Homo sapiens: one gene and its partners. The protein of the gene in region 4 purifies or fractionates together with the protein of the main gene of each other region. This does not show direct contact. Each region holds a gene or a part of one and is shown on either strand. Other genes may lie near its edges.

What was found. Proteins that work in one complex are often made in the same cells at the same time.
Region 1: the proteins of RASA1 (region 4) and MTMR14 purify together in Homo sapiens (affinity purification with mass spectrometry; one large-scale study listed by BioGRID and IntAct). This does not show direct contact.
Region 2: the proteins of RASA1 (region 4) and DDR1 purify together in Homo sapiens (pull-down; one large-scale study listed by IntAct). This does not show direct contact.
Region 3: the proteins of RASA1 (region 4) and IVNS1ABP purify together in Homo sapiens (affinity purification with mass spectrometry; one large-scale study listed by BioGRID and IntAct). This does not show direct contact.

The regions. Positions count from the first base shown.
Region 1 is NC_000003.12:9,652,468-9,656,629, reverse strand, and holds part of MTMR14 (phosphatidylinositol-3,5-bisphosphate 3-phosphatase MTMR14), read right to left. Parts: intron 3,010-4,162; coding exon 2,861-3,009; intron 1-2,860. UniProt on the Homo sapiens protein: Lipid phosphatase that specifically dephosphorylates the D-3 position of phosphatidylinositol 3-phosphate and phosphatidylinositol 3,5-bisphosphate, generating phosphatidylinositol and phosphatidylinositol 5-phosphate.
Region 2 is NC_000006.12:30,897,551-30,901,281, forward strand, and holds the end of DDR1 (epithelial discoidin domain-containing receptor 1 isoform 2 precursor), read left to right. Parts: coding exon 1-47; intron 48-522; coding exon 523-757; intron 758-1,337; coding exon 1,338-1,487; intron 1,488-1,605; coding exon 1,606-1,746; 3' UTR 1,747-2,606; downstream 2,607-3,731. UniProt on the Homo sapiens protein: Tyrosine kinase that functions as a cell surface receptor for fibrillar collagen and regulates cell attachment to the extracellular matrix, remodeling of the extracellular matrix, cell migration, differentiation, survival and cell proliferation.
Region 3 is NC_000001.11:185,299,619-185,303,780, forward strand, and holds part of IVNS1ABP (influenza virus NS1A-binding protein), read right to left. Parts: intron 1,946-4,162; coding exon 1,816-1,945; intron 1,579-1,815; coding exon 1,354-1,578; intron 941-1,353; coding exon 819-940; intron 726-818; coding exon 599-725; intron 513-598; coding exon 381-512; intron 266-380; coding exon 92-265; intron 1-91. UniProt on the Homo sapiens protein: Involved in many cell functions, including pre-mRNA splicing, the aryl hydrocarbon receptor (AHR) pathway, F-actin organization and protein ubiquitination.
Region 4 is NC_000005.10:87,269,841-87,275,460, forward strand, and holds part of RASA1 (ras GTPase-activating protein 1), read left to right. Parts: intron 1-5,620. UniProt on the Homo sapiens protein: Inhibitory regulator of the Ras-cyclic AMP pathway. Stimulates the GTPase of normal but not oncogenic Ras p21; this stimulation may be further increased in the presence of NCK1.

The sequences.
Region 1 (4,162 bases), on a different chromosome or scaffold from region 4:
TGGCCATCATGGCAAAACCCATCTCTACTAAAATTCAAGAACTAGCCAGGTGTGGTGCCACACACCTGTAATTCCAGCTACTTGGGAGGCTGATGCACAAGGATCGCTAGAGCCTGGGAGGCAGAGGTTACAGTGAGCCAAGATGGCACCACTGCACTCCAGCCTGGGCAACAGAGCAAGATTCTGTCTTAAAAAAAAAAAGAAACTAAGCTTACCTAATTCTGGAAGGAGGAATTAAGGAAGAGCTAAGAACCATAAATAACAGGGCCATAACAAACCCCAATTCTTTAGGCTTGGCGATCCCAAGTTCTTAGGTTATATAACTGAGGATGTAATACTGTTTCTGTGATCTATTTACAAGAGCCCTTAACACTCTTTTCTTGGAGAACCCCACTACAACCTTGTGAAATGGGCACTCTTTTTTTTTTATTTTTTTGAGATGGAGTCTCACCCTGTCGCCAGGCTGGAATGCAGTGGTTCGATCTTGGCTCAGTGCAGTCTCCGCCTCCTGGGTTCAAGTGATTCTCCTGCCTCAGCCTCCCGAGTAGCTGGGATTACAGGCGTGCGCCACCACACCCAGCTAATTTTTGTATATTTAGTAGATACGGGGTTTCACCATGTTGGCCAGGATGGTCTCAATCTCCTGACCTCATGATCTTGGACTCTCAAAGTGCTGGGATTACAGGTGTGAGCCAGCACGCCCGGCCAAGATGGGCACTCTTATAGACATCCCCACTTTACAGATGAGGAAACTAAGGCTTAGTGCTTAAACTCCTCCTACTGGATTGTTCCTCTGCTGTAAACCTTCTCTGGCTCCCCATGGCCTGCAGCAGCGGTTCTCAAGCTATAGTGTATTTAAGACATCAAGAGGCCGGGTGTGCTGGCTCACACCTATAATCCCAGCACTTAGGGAGGCCGAGGCGGCTGGATCATGAGGTCAGGGGTTCGAGACCAGCCTGACCAACGTGGTGAAACCCTGTCTCTACTAAAAATACAAAAAAAGTAGCTGGGCGTGGTGGCGGGCGCCTGTAATCCCAGCTACTCAGGAGGCTGAGGCAGGAGAATTGCTTGAACCCGGGAGGCAGAGGTTGCAGTGAGCCAAGATCGTGCCACTGCACTCCAGCCTGGGTGACAGAGCACTCTGTCTCAAAAAAAAAAAAAAAAAAAAGACATCAAGGGAGCTCTCACAGAATGTAGACTGGAAATTCTGATTCCAGAAGGCCCAGGAGAGGTTCTAGAATCTGTCATCTTTTTTTTGAGATAGAGTCTTGCTCTTGCTCTGTTGCCCAGGCTGGAGTGCAGTGGTGCAATCTCGGCTCACTGCAACCTCCACCTCCTGGGTTCAAGCGATTCTCCTGCCTCAGCCACCCGAGTAGCTGGGATTACAGGAGCCCACCACCACGCCCAGCTAGTTTTTGTAATTTTAGTAGGGATGGGGTTTCACCATGTTGGCCAGGCTGGTCTCAAACTCCTGACCTCAGGTGATCCACCCAAAGGAGGCTGGGATTACAGGCATGAGCCACTAGGCCAGGCCGAGAATCCATAATCTTAGTAAGTGCTTAGGGGTTCCTAGCACAATAAAACCACTGATACCCACACACAACCCACAGGTTCACACTCCCTGGCCTGATGATCAAGATCCTATATGAGTTGATCCCTAAGGACATTTTCAGGGAAACTCCTGCTCATCCTTCCAATTCCAGTTCTTCCCAGGCACATAAACACAAGGCAGAATTAACCATTTCCCCAGTTGGCCTACGGCAGCACTTCTCAAACCTGGTAGTGCATTCGAATCACCTGGACACCCTGTTCTGCTGTGATTCTGGCTCAGTGGCTCTGGAGCATGAGCTTCTGCGTTTCTAACAAGTTATTGAATGCACTGCTAGCCCTGCTTTGAGTAGCAAGGGGCTACTGCACTATGCAGCATGACTGCTGCGGTACTCCTCACAACATTTCACCCACGGGGCCAGGATTTCACAGATAGTGCTGACAACGGCTCCTGAAATTCCCTTAAAATCAGCAGGAAGTAGGGAGATTAGGAGAGCAAACTTTGAGATCAACATATACCACTTCCTAGAGCCTCATGCTGTGATTACTTATCAGTATCAAATAACTATACCATTTACTGACTACCTACAGGCCACAACCTGCACCAAGCATTCTGTGTCTGCTCTGGTATAAACTGTTAACCCACATAAGGTACTCAGGTCTTGGTAGGCCCACCATAAATGGTAGCTTTTATTTCTAATTCTTACAACGTACATGTCAGGCTTTTATCAGCCCCATTTATCATCTGGACTGCACTACCACTTTCTAAAATTTTAGTTAGTCCTTAAAAGGACTAATTAACATGAGGTAGAGAATTACCAATAAGAAAACTAAGGACAAAGCAGTTAAGTAACTTGCCCAGCATCAGTTACACAGCCAGCAACAGGGGAATCCAGGATGTGAACTCTAGACAGTCTGACTCTAGCAGTCTGACTCTAGACCTTAGGCTCTCAAGTGCTACATACGGTAAACGCTGGTAAGCCTGTCTTTACACAGTGTACCTCCCACTCACACTCTCTAAAAAAGGGACACTGATATTCAGAGAAGTGAAGTGTGAAGTCAGCTATCTTAGGACAATGAGCTCTAGGGTGGAAGTGAAACAGCAATCAAGGGCTGTTACTCCCAACCCCTCATTCTATGCCATGCCACCTTGCCAGTCTGACTTGTCCAACCTTGAAGTAAATAAAAATGCCAATAAGGATTAACACCTGGGGAAAGTGATTCTGCCCTGCCCAGCTACAGACTTCCTGGCCACAGGGATTAGCTGCCACGGACTCCCCAGACATGTACACTACGGTCACATGATGCTCACGTGTCTTTCTCCTTCTCAGAACTCTCATACTCCAGGAACACGATGTGCCGGGGATAGTGGCCACAGATATCCCCATTCGTGTTTGGAATCACGCTGAAACAGTAGTCTCGGCCAAACAGCTCCAGACATCTCTTCTCAATGCGCTCAACCTGCACAGAGAAGGAGACCAGAACACAAAGAGAATTCTGGGGTTCTGAGGGTGAGAATTAGGAGGTCCATGGCCTAAGAGGTCACTGGGAAAGACATGTACCTGGGTGATAATTATTCTGTGCTGGGAAGATGTGATGCTAGGCCACAGGTCCTACGTGTAGTCCATTAACCCATATATTGTATACTTCAGGAAGGATTCTTAAACCCCTAACAATGAATCTGAAATTGTGGGTATTGAGCATTTGGGGGAGACGATTACAGCTTTCATTAGATTCAAAGAGGTCTACAACCCATAAAACATAAGAACTCTTGGTCCAGGTTACTGAAACTGCCACTAATCCACTACCTTCATTGGTCAGCTTCCCCATTCTCTTATTTATTTTTTGAGACGGAGTCTCGCTCTGTCGCCCAGGCTGCAGTGCAGTGGGGCAATCTCAGCTCACTGCAGCCTCCGCGTCCGGGGTTCAAGCGATTCTCCTGTCTCACCCCGAGTAGCTGGGATTACAGGTGCGTAGAACCACGCCTGACTAATTTTTCTATTTTTAGTAGAGACAGGGGTTTCACCATGTTGGCCAGGCTAGTTTCAAACTCCTGACCTCAGGTGACCCGCCCACCTCGGCCTCCCCAAGTGCTGGGATTACAGGCGTGAGCCACGGCACCCGGCCTTTATTTTTTTAAAAGACACAGTCTCACTCTGTCATCCAAGCTGGAGTGCAGTGGCACGATCTCAGCTCACTGCAACCTCAGCCTCCTGGGTTCAAGTGAGCATATTTGGCTAATTTTCATATTTTTAGTAGAGATGGGGTTTCACCATGCTGGCCAGGCTGGTCTTGAACTCCTGATCTCAAGTGATCCGCCCGCCTCAGCCTCCCAGGTGTGAGCCACCATGCCTGGCCTCTTCCCCATTCCTTTTTTTTTTTTTTGAGAAAGAGTCTTGCTCTGTCACCCAGGCTAGAGTGCAATGGTGTGATCTCTGCTCACTGCAACCTCTGCCTCCTGGGTGAGCCACCACGCCCAGCCAACAAAAAATTTTTAATAGAGATGGGGTTCATGTTTCCAGGCTGCTCTCGAACTCCTGGGCTGAAGCAGTCTACCTGCCTTGGCCTCCCAAAGTGCTAGGATTACACGCGTGAGCCAGTGTACTGGCCCTCT
Region 2 (3,731 bases), on a different chromosome or scaffold from region 4:
GAGGGGGCCCCTGGGGACGGGCAGGCTGCGCAGGGGCCCACCATCAGGTACCTGCTTACCCAGGCTGGGCCTTGCTCAGAATTCCCCCAGGGGATCTCCTCCTCTCCCCTCGCTTCAGCCTGGAGGAAAAGAGGGGAGCGTGGGGGTGGGAAGGGAGAGAGGTTCCAGGAGGGCCTGGGATAAGGAATGTGTGACAAGTTAACCCAGGAACATGGACAGAAAGGCTGGAGGTGACTATGCAAGAGTGGTGAAGGGACTTGGGCCCTGCCATGACGTCCCTTCTGCTTTCTCTCACCCTCACTCCCCTCTGAGTCCAGATTGGGGAGCACAATAAAAGAAGAGCCCCCTAGTGTTGGCCAGGCCTGGGAGATTGAGAGGGAAGTGACCCTTGGCCTCACGTGGGCATTCCACCTCCACATGGGGAGCCAGAGTGACCGGGCCCGGGGAGTGGGCTCTCTCTCCTCTCCTGGATGGGAATCTGCGAAGCTGCCCCCAGTGACCTTCTGTCGGTTCCCTTCTCAGCTACCCAATGCTGCTGCATGTGGCAGCCCAGATCGCCTCCGGCATGCGCTATCTGGCCACACTCAACTTTGTACATCGGGACCTGGCCACGCGGAACTGCCTAGTTGGGGAAAATTTCACCATCAAAATCGCAGACTTTGGCATGAGCCGGAACCTCTATGCTGGGGACTATTACCGTGTGCAGGGCCGGGCAGTGCTGCCCATCCGCTGGATGGCCTGGGAGTGCATCCTCATGGTGAGCAGCCCGAGGACAGCCAGGTTGGAGCAGGGCAGGTGGGAGAACACTGGCCGCCACTCACAGCCCTGGTCTCCATCAGTCACACACTTTCTCTGGGTTGCATTTTACAGAATCTCATCTATAATATGAGGTTCTCCTAGCCCAAGGGACTGGGGAAAGCAGGAGCTGCAGTGTGATGGGCAAGAATCCAGGAGCCAAGAGTGGGTACTGGGGATGGAGACAGGGTGGCAGAGAGCTCAAGAGATGAGGTTGGGCGAGGAAGCTGGAGATAGAAGGGGTTGGGTAGGGAGACCGAAGGTCAGGACCAGAAAGTGGGGGTGGATGGAGAGGAAGGAGGAGCAGAAGGAAGAGGTGGGCCAGGGCCCTGGAGAGAGGACCAGAGCATGGAGAGGAAAGGCAGAGCCCAAGGGAGAGGAGTTGGAAAAGGTGGCCAGCGGAGGAGAGTGGAGAGCCTGGCGTCAGGAGGGATCAGGCCTGAGTGGAGCCCAGAGTGGATCTGGGGCTTCCAATAGGAAGGGAGGAGGGTCTACGTTGCCTGATGTCCCTGTCTGTTTTTGCTGCCTTCTCTGCATCCCAGGGGAAGTTCACGACTGCGAGTGACGTGTGGGCCTTTGGTGTGACCCTGTGGGAGGTGCTGATGCTCTGTAGGGCCCAGCCCTTTGGGCAGCTCACCGACGAGCAGGTCATCGAGAACGCGGGGGAGTTCTTCCGGGACCAGGGCCGGCAGGTCAGAGTGGAGGAGAGGGAAGATGGGTCCGAGGCGGGGGACAGAAGGGGCAGAGTTGTCATCTTGGAGACTAAAGAATATTTGTTCCCTGACTCTCATCCACACTGCCACAATGCAGGTGTACCTGTCCCGGCCGCCTGCCTGCCCGCAGGGCCTATATGAGCTGATGCTTCGGTGCTGGAGCCGGGAGTCTGAGCAGCGACCACCCTTTTCCCAGCTGCATCGGTTCCTGGCAGAGGATGCACTCAACACGGTGTGAATCACACATCCAGCTGCCCCTCCCTCAGGGAGCGATCCAGGGGAAGCCAGTGACACTAAAACAAGAGGACACAATGGCACCTCTGCCCTTCCCCTCCCGACAGCCCATCACCTCTAATAGAGGCAGTGAGACTGCAGGTGGGCTGGGCCCACCCAGGGAGCTGATGCCCCTTCTCCCCTTCCTGGACACACTCTCATGTCCCCTTCCTGTTCTTCCTTCCTAGAAGCCCCTGTCGCCCACCCAGCTGGTCCTGTGGATGGGATCCTCTCCACCCTCCTCTAGCCATCCCTTGGGGAAGGGTGGGGAGAAATATAGGATAGACACTGGACATGGCCCATTGGAGCACCTGGGCCCCACTGGACAACACTGATTCCTGGAGAGGTGGCTGCGCCCCCAGCTTCTCTCTCCCTGTCACACACTGGACCCCACTGGCTGAGAATCTGGGGGTGAGGAGGACAAGAAGGAGAGGAAAATGTTTCCTTGTGCCTGCTCCTGTACTTGTCCTCAGCTTGGGCTTCTTCCTCCTCCATCACCTGAAACACTGGACCTGGGGGTAGCCCCGCCCCAGCCCTCAGTCACCCCCACTTCCCACTTGCAGTCTTGTAGCTAGAACTTCTCTAAGCCTATACGTTTCTGTGGAGTAAATATTGGGATTGGGGGGAAAGAGGGAGCAACGGCCCATAGCCTTGGGGTTGGACATCTCTAGTGTAGCTGCCACATTGATTTTTCTATAATCACTTGGGGTTTGTACATTTTTGGGGGGAGAGACACAGATTTTTACACTAATATATGGACCTAGCTTGAGGCAATTTTAATCCCCTGCACTAGGCAGGTAATAATAAAGGTTGAGTTTTCCACAACTGTGTGAGTGGGTTCCTTGGGAATTTGGTAACTCTGCCTCCTGCACCTCCCTCTGAACCCACTTCCCAACCCACTTCCCATCTTCCTTTTTTCCTGCCTCCTCATTCCATTTCCCATCACCTGTTTTGCCCAGCATTGTGTTCTGTTTCTGGATAATCCAGGCCTTTGCCTGTGGGACCTCAGGAGATGCATGAATGTCTGAGTGCATGAACCTTCTCAACTCAGAGGGGTGCTCTGGTGGAGGCCTGGAAGGAATGCAGTCAGGCCAGGGGTGCTGAACCTTTTTTGTGCCATAAACGCCTTTGGCAGTCTGTAGAGGTCTACTGAGTCCTCCTCAGAATTAGGTTTTAAAACCTATAAAATGGACCAGGCATAGTGGCTCACCCCTGTAATCCCAGCACTTTGGGAGGCTGAGGTGGGTAGATCACTTGAGGCCAGGAGTTCGAGACCAACCTGGCCAACATAGCAAAACCCCATCTCTACTAAAGATACAAAAATTAGCAGGGTGTGGTGGCATGCGCCTGTAATCTCAGCTATTCAGGAGGCTGAGGCAGGAGAATTGCTTAGAACCCGGGAGGTGGGGGTTGCAGTGAGCTGAGATCACACAACTGTGCTCCAGCCTGGGCAACAGAGTGAGACTGTCTCAAAAACAGAACAACAACAACAACAAAACCCATAAAATGTATAGGATTATAAGGGAAACCAATGGAAACAGTTTACCAAAATGCTAAAAAATTATGAAACTAATGTGCTTCTTTTTCATGTATTTAATAACAAGATCTAAAAACAGGTGTAATAAACTGACATTTTCCAAATACTAATGAGCATAAGCCATATTTGAGATTTCTACAACAGTCACAGTGAGACATAAAAGTAGCTGTGGTGTCAATTAGTGACAAGTCACAGGTACTGCTAATACTACTGGTGGTTTTACCCATATTCATAATTGGAGGAAATGCTAAACTTCTATTAGAGGTTAGTAAAAGGTGTAATTTCTTTTTCTTGCCCAAATTCTAGAACCCATCTGGCTCCCCAGGGTCTGGAAATCCCAGGGGAGAATCCCTGGGTTATGCTGATCAAGTGTGCAAATGCCCCACTGGGGGTAGGGGATAGGTTGTTGGAAT
Region 3 (4,162 bases), on a different chromosome or scaffold from region 4:
TACAACTATAGTCATTGGCCTTTTCTCTCAGAGTTTTAGAACAAAGTCTTGCCACTATCTACTCTTCACCTCTCCAAATCCCAACACTCACCATTAAGAACAGCCACTCCAGCTCCTCGCCTAGCCACATTCATGGGTGCAATTAAAGTCCAGGTATTATTTTCAGGATTGTATCGTTCTACTGTGTTCAGACAATTCCAAGATTCTGCACCTCCGATTATGTACAAATAACCACCAAGCTCACAGACTGCAGACTGGTGTCTCCCTACAAGAAAAGTCAAGTCAAGATTATTGCTACATCTCCCAGACTCTAAGTGTATACTACACATACTGTTGATTTGAAGGTCTTTAAAAAAAAAAAGGAAAAAAAATCAACTTACGAATGTTAAGAGGGGCACAGCTTGTCCACAACTTTGTTACAGGATCAAATACATCACAATTTTTCAGTCCTTTTTGACCATATGGATCAGAGCCACCAACGATGTATAACTTTCCATTCAGAGCACACACTCCTATGTAAGTATAAAATAAAGTTACATATTGATAATTTAATTATCATATTTAAATACTGGATATCTCAGGAGAAAACTATTATTACCTGCATTACAACGGTTAGTTCTCAATTCTGGAACAGGAATCCAGTCATCTATGTTTGAATCATACATCTCTCCACAACTCAGGTCATCTGAGTGGCCATTTGATCCACCTACCACATAGAGCTGGCCCTATGCCAAAAGTGAGAGATGAGAATTTCTAACATCCTGAAGTTACGAGGAAAAAGCTAAATAGGGGTTGCTCCTGCAACATAATGCGCTTACCATGAGTACAGCCATTTGAAATCGGGCTCTTGGTGTTCTCATGGGAGCAAGAAAGGACCAGTGATCTGTATGTGGATTATAGCATTCGACTGTTCGAAGACATTCCTCTCTGTTATAGCCACCTGGTAAAAAATAAAACCATAAAGATTTATGTTTAAAATATTAAACTGGACCACGGTTTCCAGTCCTGTAAGTTTAAGAAATCTGCACAATGAGAAAAAGTATTAAAACTTTTTAAGGATGCCTTAGTTGATCTTTTAACTAAGTGCTTGTAATAGCTGAAAAATCGCATTATCAGTACAAATAAACTGCTTAGTCTTGGCTTGAATATTAGAAAAATTTAGCCATGACATAATTTTTTTAAAAATTAGATACAGACATTGAACTGAAGGTTAGCCATATTCAATAGTATTGTTATTTCCCTATCTTATTGGATTGCCGTGAAAGATGGCATATTAAACCCTCTCTTTGAAAGTTTGCATGTCACAAAAATGCCCATCTACATGCTTAGCCAGTTGAATGCTTCTGTTCTTACCTGCAGCTATGAGTTTGCCATTCATCTCTGCTGTTCCCAGACCAGATCGTGCGTACTGCATAGGAGACATGGGCTTTTCGATTAGCTCATCTTGTTGCATCTCAAAGCTTAAACTCTTACTTAGTTTTGGAGTACTTGTTGGTGAGCTCTGTGGGCTGTTTCTCCCATGAAGAAAAATGACACAGAATATACCATCCAGCACAGCCAGGCACAAGTAAGTGTTATCTGTAAGCACAAGAGTTCCATGTTTAAGATGTAATTATTACTTTTGGTTTGTGTATATGATCCTGAATTGGACTCCAGTCTCCACATCCCAGACTGGAACAATCTGCTCTCGTTTTCCAAATTTAATTGCTTCTGAGTTTTTTCCTCGAGTAGTCAATTTAAGAGGTATTAAATTGGCAACACTCCTTCTTAAAAATAGGTAAGCTGAAAACAATCTGGCAAGTGTCATATACTTACTTGAAGTCTTTTCTGAAGCAACGATTTTCCACTCATGCTTAGGGCTTTGTACTGTAGCATTTGGAGAAGAGAGACATCCAGTTGAACTGCTACTTATCTGCTTATGGCCATTCTCACGTGGTGGCTTTTTCTGCAAAATCAAAAGGTAGCTACAGAAACCTAGCCAAAGACCACATCTGATGTACCTTTGTTCCTGAGCTATTCCACAACACTGAGTATCCTTCACCTATATATGACATTTATAGGACACTAACTTTAACTCAAGCCAACACTTTCCAAATGACACAAATTACTGGCATACTTCCATCTCCACTCAATGATGAGACAACTACGCCTACACAATTAGCCTAGGTAAGAAAAAGCTCAGTTTTAACAATTTGAAAAACATGTTGCAAATCAAGACCTCAGCAGAAGAAAAAACCAATCTATAATTATTTTTATATTAAGTATAGAATCTTTTAAAAGAATGCTATAAATTTAAAATAGTGTGAATTAACAGAGAATACATTTAACCCACTATTTTCATGAAATTGTCAAACCTAACTAAATCATATGTACAGGTATCCTTCATACAATGCCAGCAAAACGTAAGCAGATATAGATTCATCCAGTTTCTCTGAAAGTACTTGACAGGAAAAAAGTGGCAATTACAAGAAACACTTAAAGAATATTTCTTTAGGATTACCTTATAGGTATTATAGAGTGGTTTTCTAGACAAAATTACATCAAAACACAAGAAAATAGTAATCAGAAATGAAACATTACTAAAAACAACCAAATATTCACAAAAGTAGAATATACAGGAATACTAAAGAGGGAGAAATGAACAAAGCTGCCAATTTCCAAATGATTGTAAGAGAACTACTTTACACATGTGTTCTCATGTATGAGTTTTCCTTGATGGCTTCCTTCCAATTACTTTAGCCTTTGCCACTTCCAAAGGATATGATCATATGGAATTGGAAGAGTAAAGACTACTCTGAGAGGAACTGCCAAATGAACAGGTAGCAACTTCAGCACCTGGCCTAGTTTGCTCATCCCACTTGTGCTGGTCCAGATGGCCAGAACACATGGATAGGTAAAATTTCTAATGGAAATTTCTGTTGCTAGTGGAAGCAAAAAGCCATATAACAAGTAATTGAGAAAAAGATTTTGCTAGCTACTTGAAGCTATTAAGAAAAAGCTATATCAAAAGTTAGGCCTGAGTGTGGTTACAACATACGTAGGCTATTTTGAGAAAAGGCAGGGAATGTATCATTATCAATGGTTATGATTAAATTCCACTTAGATGTTTACTATGTACCTAGGTATTACTAGGTACTTTATTTACATCATCTCTTTTAGTCCAGTGAGGGTGATATTATCTACCCATTTTATAGATAAAAATATTGAAACTCAAGAAGATATGCATTGCCCAAGGCAATACAACTAAAATAAAGATTAGGAATTATGAAGATAAACCCCATCCTTTTTATACTATGACAAGTTATGTCATACTATAAAACAGATTTACACTATGACAGGCTGTTTTCCACTGTTACTAAAGTTGTGAATGCATCTTTCATATCACTTTTATACTATGAATATTAAGAATAAAAAATAAGGTTAGACTTATCTAACCTTATCTATTATTATGAATTACAAGGTACATAAAACCTCATCCCAACCTATGGGAAGAAGGGATCCAAATATCACAAATGGATGATGCTTACATTGAGGCTGTACTGAAGTAAAAAAACTGTTCTAATGTACAAACTATAATTAAGAGAAAATGACTGTGAAAGAGAAAGGCCCAAAAGCAATGCCTAATAACAAGCCTAATATAGAAATGCTGATTAAATCCTTTATATGTAAAGAATATATCCCTAAACCTTATTTTACATGACCTCCCAGAGAACTTGACAGTGTTTAGTCCTCCTTCAAACTTTCTTCTCCTACCTTAGGTAGCTTTTACAACATGATTAGATTCTTATTGTCCTCTGACTTTTCTAATGGCTTCTTCTCAACCTCCTTTTTCTATTCCTGAAGTCTAACATGTGTCCCTCGCATCCTCTTCATGATCTCTATTCATGGCATCACATTCTAATGAGTCACACATGTCAGAATCCCACTTATTCTCAAATTCTTTCTTTTCCCTAATCTTGCTAAGCAATCACTAAGGCCTGCTAAGTCAACCTTTGTAAATATAAATGTCTATTTATATATAGACATAAATAAAAAATCTATCCTTTCTCCTTCATGCCCCTAGATTAATCCCTCATCATTTTTTTAAAACCTGAACTACTGCTGGCAATAGTCTATAAACTGGGCTCAAACTTTTATTGATTTTCTGTGTCTGGTTATAAAA
Region 4 (5,620 bases):
AGGTGTTTATTCTTAAAGGTGGACCTTGATGAAAATGTTGAGATGGGAAGTGTTATTAGGCAAAACTTGTTATAGATTTCTCATATAACCCTTAATTGACCCTTAGAATTTTAACAACCGGCCGGGCGCAGTGGCTCACACCTGTAATCCCAGCACTTTGAGAGGCTGAGGTGGGCGGATCACCTGAGGTCAGGAGTTCGAGACCAACCTGGCCAACCTGGTGAAACCCTGTCTCTACTAAAAATACAAAAATAAGCCGGACGCGGTGGCACGCGCCTATAATCCTAGCTACTTGGGAGGCTGAGGCAGAAGAATCGCTTGAACCCAGGAGGCGGAGGTTGCAGTGAGCCGAGATCGTGCCGCTGCACTCCAGCCTGGGTGACAGAGCGAGACTCTGTCTCAAAAAAAAAAAAAAAAGAATTTTGACAACTTTGTTGAATATCAAGAAAAAAAGATTTGGTTCATATGTTGACAGTCACTCTGGACAATTCAGAGGTTTTTTTTTTTTTCCTTCCCCCCACCCCAGAGATGGAGTCTCGCCTTGTTGCCCAGGCTGGAGTGCAGTGGCGTGATCTCGGCTCACTGCAACCTCCGCCTCCCGGGTTCAAGAGATTCTCCTGCTTCAGCCTCTCTAGTAGCTGGGATTACAGGCGCATGCCACCATGTCTGGCTAATTTTTGTATTTTTAATAGAGACGAAATTTCGCCATATGGCCAAACTGATGTCGAACTCCTGACCTCAGGTGATCCGCCGGCCTCAGCCTCCCAAAGTGGTGGGATTACAGCCGTAAGCCACGGTGCCCGGCCTTTTTTTTTTTTTTTTTTTTTTTTTTTTTTTTTTTTTGGATAAGCTTCTTTGGAGCATTTAGAAAGTTCTGAAACTAATTAGGAAAAGATTCTGTTACCCTAATCCATTTTTGACTTAAGGCTACATCTTTTGATACTTAAAGGGGAAAAGTAAAGTTAGTCATATTTATGCCAGCCAACGGGATGTAGTATTCCACTTTTTATATTCCTCAATAAAGGATTCAAGTCTTTCGTCAGAGTTTGGTTCATATTTTAATGTCTTTGTAATGCAGAGTCCCTGGGAGTATTCTGGGAGTGTTAATTCCAATTTTGCTGGGCGCGGTGGCTCACGCCTGTAATCCCAGCACTTCGGGAGGCCGAGGCGGGTGGATCACCTGAAGTCCGGAGTTTGAGACCAGCCTGACCGAGATGGAGAAACCCCGTCTCTACTAAAAATACGAAATTAGCCTGGCGTGGTGGCGGGTGCCTGTAATCCCAGCTTCTTAGGAGGCTGAGGCAGGAGAATCGCTTGAACCCGGGAGGCGAAGGTTGCAGTGAGCCGAGATCCTGCCATTGCACTCCAGCCTGGGCAATAAGAGCTTAACCCCGTCTCAAAACAAACAAACAAACAAAAAAACAATATTACAGCACTGCTTTTGAAAAAAATAGTTCAATTTTTATTAAATGCTAATAGCATGCTTGGTACAATGGTTATGAAAAACAATGCAACTTTTCATACTGAAAGAATCTAGTCTTATGCTAGTTTATAACTAAATTAGGTATATTTAGGATATTGTAGTTAAAAAAAACTGTTTTTAGTAGACTTCTTTTTTTTTTTTTTTTTTTTTTTTTTTTTTTTGAGAGATGGAGTTTCGCTGTTTCGCCCAGGCTGGAGTGAAGTGGCGTGTTTTCGGCTCACTGCAAGCTCCGCCCCGCCCCTCCCCGCCTTCAGGTTCAAGCGATTCTCCTGCCTCAGCCTCCTGAGTACCTAGGATTACAGGTGCCCGCAACCAGGCCTGGCTAATTTTCATATTTTTAGTAGAGACAGGGTTTTGCCATGTTGGCCAGGCTGGTCTCGAACTCTGACCTCAGGTGATCCACTTGCCTCCCGAAGTGCTGGGATTACAGGTGTGAGCCACCGCGCCTGGCCCAATAGACTGTTTTTTAGAGTAGTTTTAGGTTCTCAGCAAAATTGAGGGGAAAATACAGGGTGTTCCCATTAAATTTTTAGTAATAAACACGATTGGGCTGGGGGTGGTGCTTCACGCCTCTAATCCCAGCAATTTGGGAGGCCAAGGCGAGTGGATCACTTGAGGTCAGAGTTCGAGACTAGCTTGGCCAACACGGTGAAACCCCGTCTCTACTAAAAAAAAAAAATCAGCCGGTCGTGTTGGCGGGCGCCTGTAATCCCAGCTACTCTGGAGGTTGAGGCAGAATTGCTTGAACCAGGGAGGGGGCGGTTGCAGTGAGCCGAGATCTGCCGTTGCACTCTAGCCTGGGCAGCAAGAACGAAACCCTGTCTAAAAAAAAAAAAAACACCATGATTGAGTACTTATGAAAAATTGTGAGAAATTCATTGTGTGGGATTTTCACCATTACTACATGTATTTGGAAATAAAAATTGTATGACTATGTATATGAAACTTGTTCATGTTCTAAAAAATACCCTCCATTTATAATATGTTTTTAAAATTTGCCACTGAGAAGTACAAATTTCCTTCTTATTTCATCTTAGTTATCAACCCAGAGTCACTGGAGGCAATGCAGTGTAGTGGTTAAGCGTGCAGATTCTGAAGTTAGACAAGATTTGGGTTGGAATCCTGACTCTGCCACTTACTAGCTGGGTATTCTTGGAAAGGTCAGTTTCCCCATCCGTAAAATGGGGATAGGAATGGTACCTTCCTCATATGATTGTTTTTTTTTTTTTAAGATTTAATGAATACCTTGATGTATTCGTCACAGTACTTGGGCATAGTAAGTGTTCGATAAATACGTAGTCCCCTGTGCCCATAACTGTAATATTTTACTAGCACTAAATTGTCTACTAATTCTTTTGGTTAGAGAATCTCCCTTGTTAAATGACTATTTTACAGAATGTTTTGAACTCCAAATCAAGCCTACCACGATTAATTATATTAAGAATTTTATTTTAACTTTATAAGGGCTTCTAGCAGTAGGTTAAGCAATTTTAGAGGTGAAATTCAAGTGTTCTCTATAAATTCCTATTCCTGAATGTAGATATTCATATTTTTAAGTGGAAGGAAAAGCCTTAAAGACATTTTCAAATAATATTTATCTTTTGTAAAAGTATTGAAGAAATGTTGGACTAAATACTGACTATGAGTAACTGGTCCCCTTAGTTATGGATAGCATGGTATTAAGGGGGTTTAGGTCACAGGATTGAGTCCACAAGTGGCTTGTTACTCGAGTGTTCCATGGTCAGGAAGTTAGTTCAACTTTGTTCCCAGTTTTGTGCTATTGATCACAAAAGAGTCAAATGACAATATGTAGATACACCAGTGCAAATAAATTAACACTATTAATTAGTATTTTGTACCTTGTTTTTCTGTGTACGTGGTGAATCATTAGTCTCATTTTTATTACTGAGCATTTTCATTAGTTTGGTTGAGGCTGGAAATGTTTATGTAATTTGTACTATTTATTTGAATATTTTTGAAAGTTTTGAGAAAATTATAAAAATAAAAAAAATTCTTCCTCTCTATTTCTCTACTATAAAAGTTTCTATATCTAAAACTGTTAACAGATTTCTTTTTCGAGAGAGAAAAGGTTAAATTAAAGAAGTTTGTCACTAGTACTCCATAATTTTTTGGAGTTTCTTTTCATGGTTCTCATTTTTTTTCTTCTGCAGGGTGAGGGGCAGTGGTGGTAAAGGTATATTGTTTGTGTAGTGCACCATCAGTTATATGTAGAGATTTTTAACTGTGAGTCTGCAGTAGCAAGTGGCCATTGGTGAGAATCCAACCCACAGATATATACTGCTTGCCCTTAGAGTATTTGGAATATTTGATAATTGTCACCATTTAAGAATAGAGATTTCTTTTCTTTTTCTTTTTCTTTTTTTTTTTTTTTGAGATGGAGTCTTGCTCTGTTACCCAGGGTGGTGTGCAGTAGTGTGATCTTGGCTCACTGCAACCTCCGCCTCCCGGATTCAGGTGATTCTCCTGCCTCTGCCTCCCCAGTAGCCGGGGTTACAGGTACACACCACCATGCCTGGCTAATTTTTGTATTTTTAGTAGAGACGGGGTTTCACTCTGTTGGCCAGGCTGGTCTCGAACTCCTAACCTCAGGTGATCCGCCTGCCTTGGCCTCCCAAAGTGCTGGGATTACAGGCGTGAGCCACCTCGCGGCCAATAGGAAGATTTCATATTTAAGAAGTCTCAACTTCTAGCATCTCTAGAAAACCCACAGGACTTGGCTATACCTGGTGGCCATTCCTGCTTGAGACTAGATTGCCAGAGCTGAGTAGCGGTTGACCCTTTTAGGTGGGTACTGAGGTCTCCATTTGCAGTCTCCACCAGGTCTGCTTTGCCTTTGCTATTGCAGTATTTGCCTGGCATCTGGCCTGGATCTTATGCTGAACCTAATATTCAGACTTCTCAAGTCTGAAACTTTAAGGAAAAGAAAATAAGGAATGTAAATAGTACCTTTCTTTTTTAAAAAAATCATTTTACTGTCTCTACAAAAATAAAATCATTCTTATTAAGTCAAATAATTGGTGAAGGTTAATGTTAGAACATGTAGCATTCATTAACTTTGTCACTGATTGCATTATACATATGGGTGAGCCATTGTTTCTTAATAAAAATGGGGGTGAGACTTGCTAAGATTAGTTACGGACAATGATTGATGACCAGAACTCATATTTTTTACTGTATTTGTATAAGTAGCAGAGAAATATAGTAGGTGCTTCAAGGGTTGCAAGAGTAAAATGCCCCTTTTCTCAATGGGAGAAAAGGGAGTATTAGATCTAGTAGGAAATTAAGTAAACCAATTACTGTGATTCAGGCTAGGTTAAGATAAATATCACGAGTGAAGTATGAGCAAAGGTCATGAGGGTTAAAAGAAAAAGAAATTTGTGTAATTAGGATCAGTAAATTCTTTGAGGAAAAATAGCAGGTATGTTTTTCCTGCTACTTAATTTATTTTCTGAGCAAGAGGTTATTGGTTCTGATGCTCTTCGCTTAATGATTCTATCAGGAAAACATAATTATGAATTAGATGAGTTTAAACTTTTCACCCTTAGTGAAGAGTCTGGTCTACAGAACTTTTAGTTACCTGTGGTCTGGAGGGAAGTTGACGGTGATGTCTGTAGTGACTGAGGTACAGAGCACAGTTGAATGCTAGAATCGGTATGGATCATTGATTAGCCACTCTGGGGAAAACAGGCAAACATTACTGGCAAAGCTAAAAAGGACAGCCATAAATTAGGAAGGGAAAAGGAAAAACGAAGAGTAGACTTTCTGGTTGCTTTACTTCTCTCTCTTTACTGGCCATTGGTGAAATGAACAGAGTCCCTTTAAGAACACTTAAATACCCAGAAAAGTACCTTTTGGGAAGAAGATTTTTTATAGTGATTATTAACTATAACAATGGTTACCACTGACATTTTTTGTTGTTGTTGCTTACTGCCAAACAGGAACAGTTCTAATTGGTTTATTTGTATTGTTTTGGTTATCTATTGCTGCATAATAAAGCACTCCAAAACATAGTGGCTAAAACAATTGTGTATTTGCCCTTGATTCTAAAATTTGTGTATGGCTTTATGGTGACTTCTCCACATGTGATCTGTTGGCTATAATGTCCACTGTGGCTTC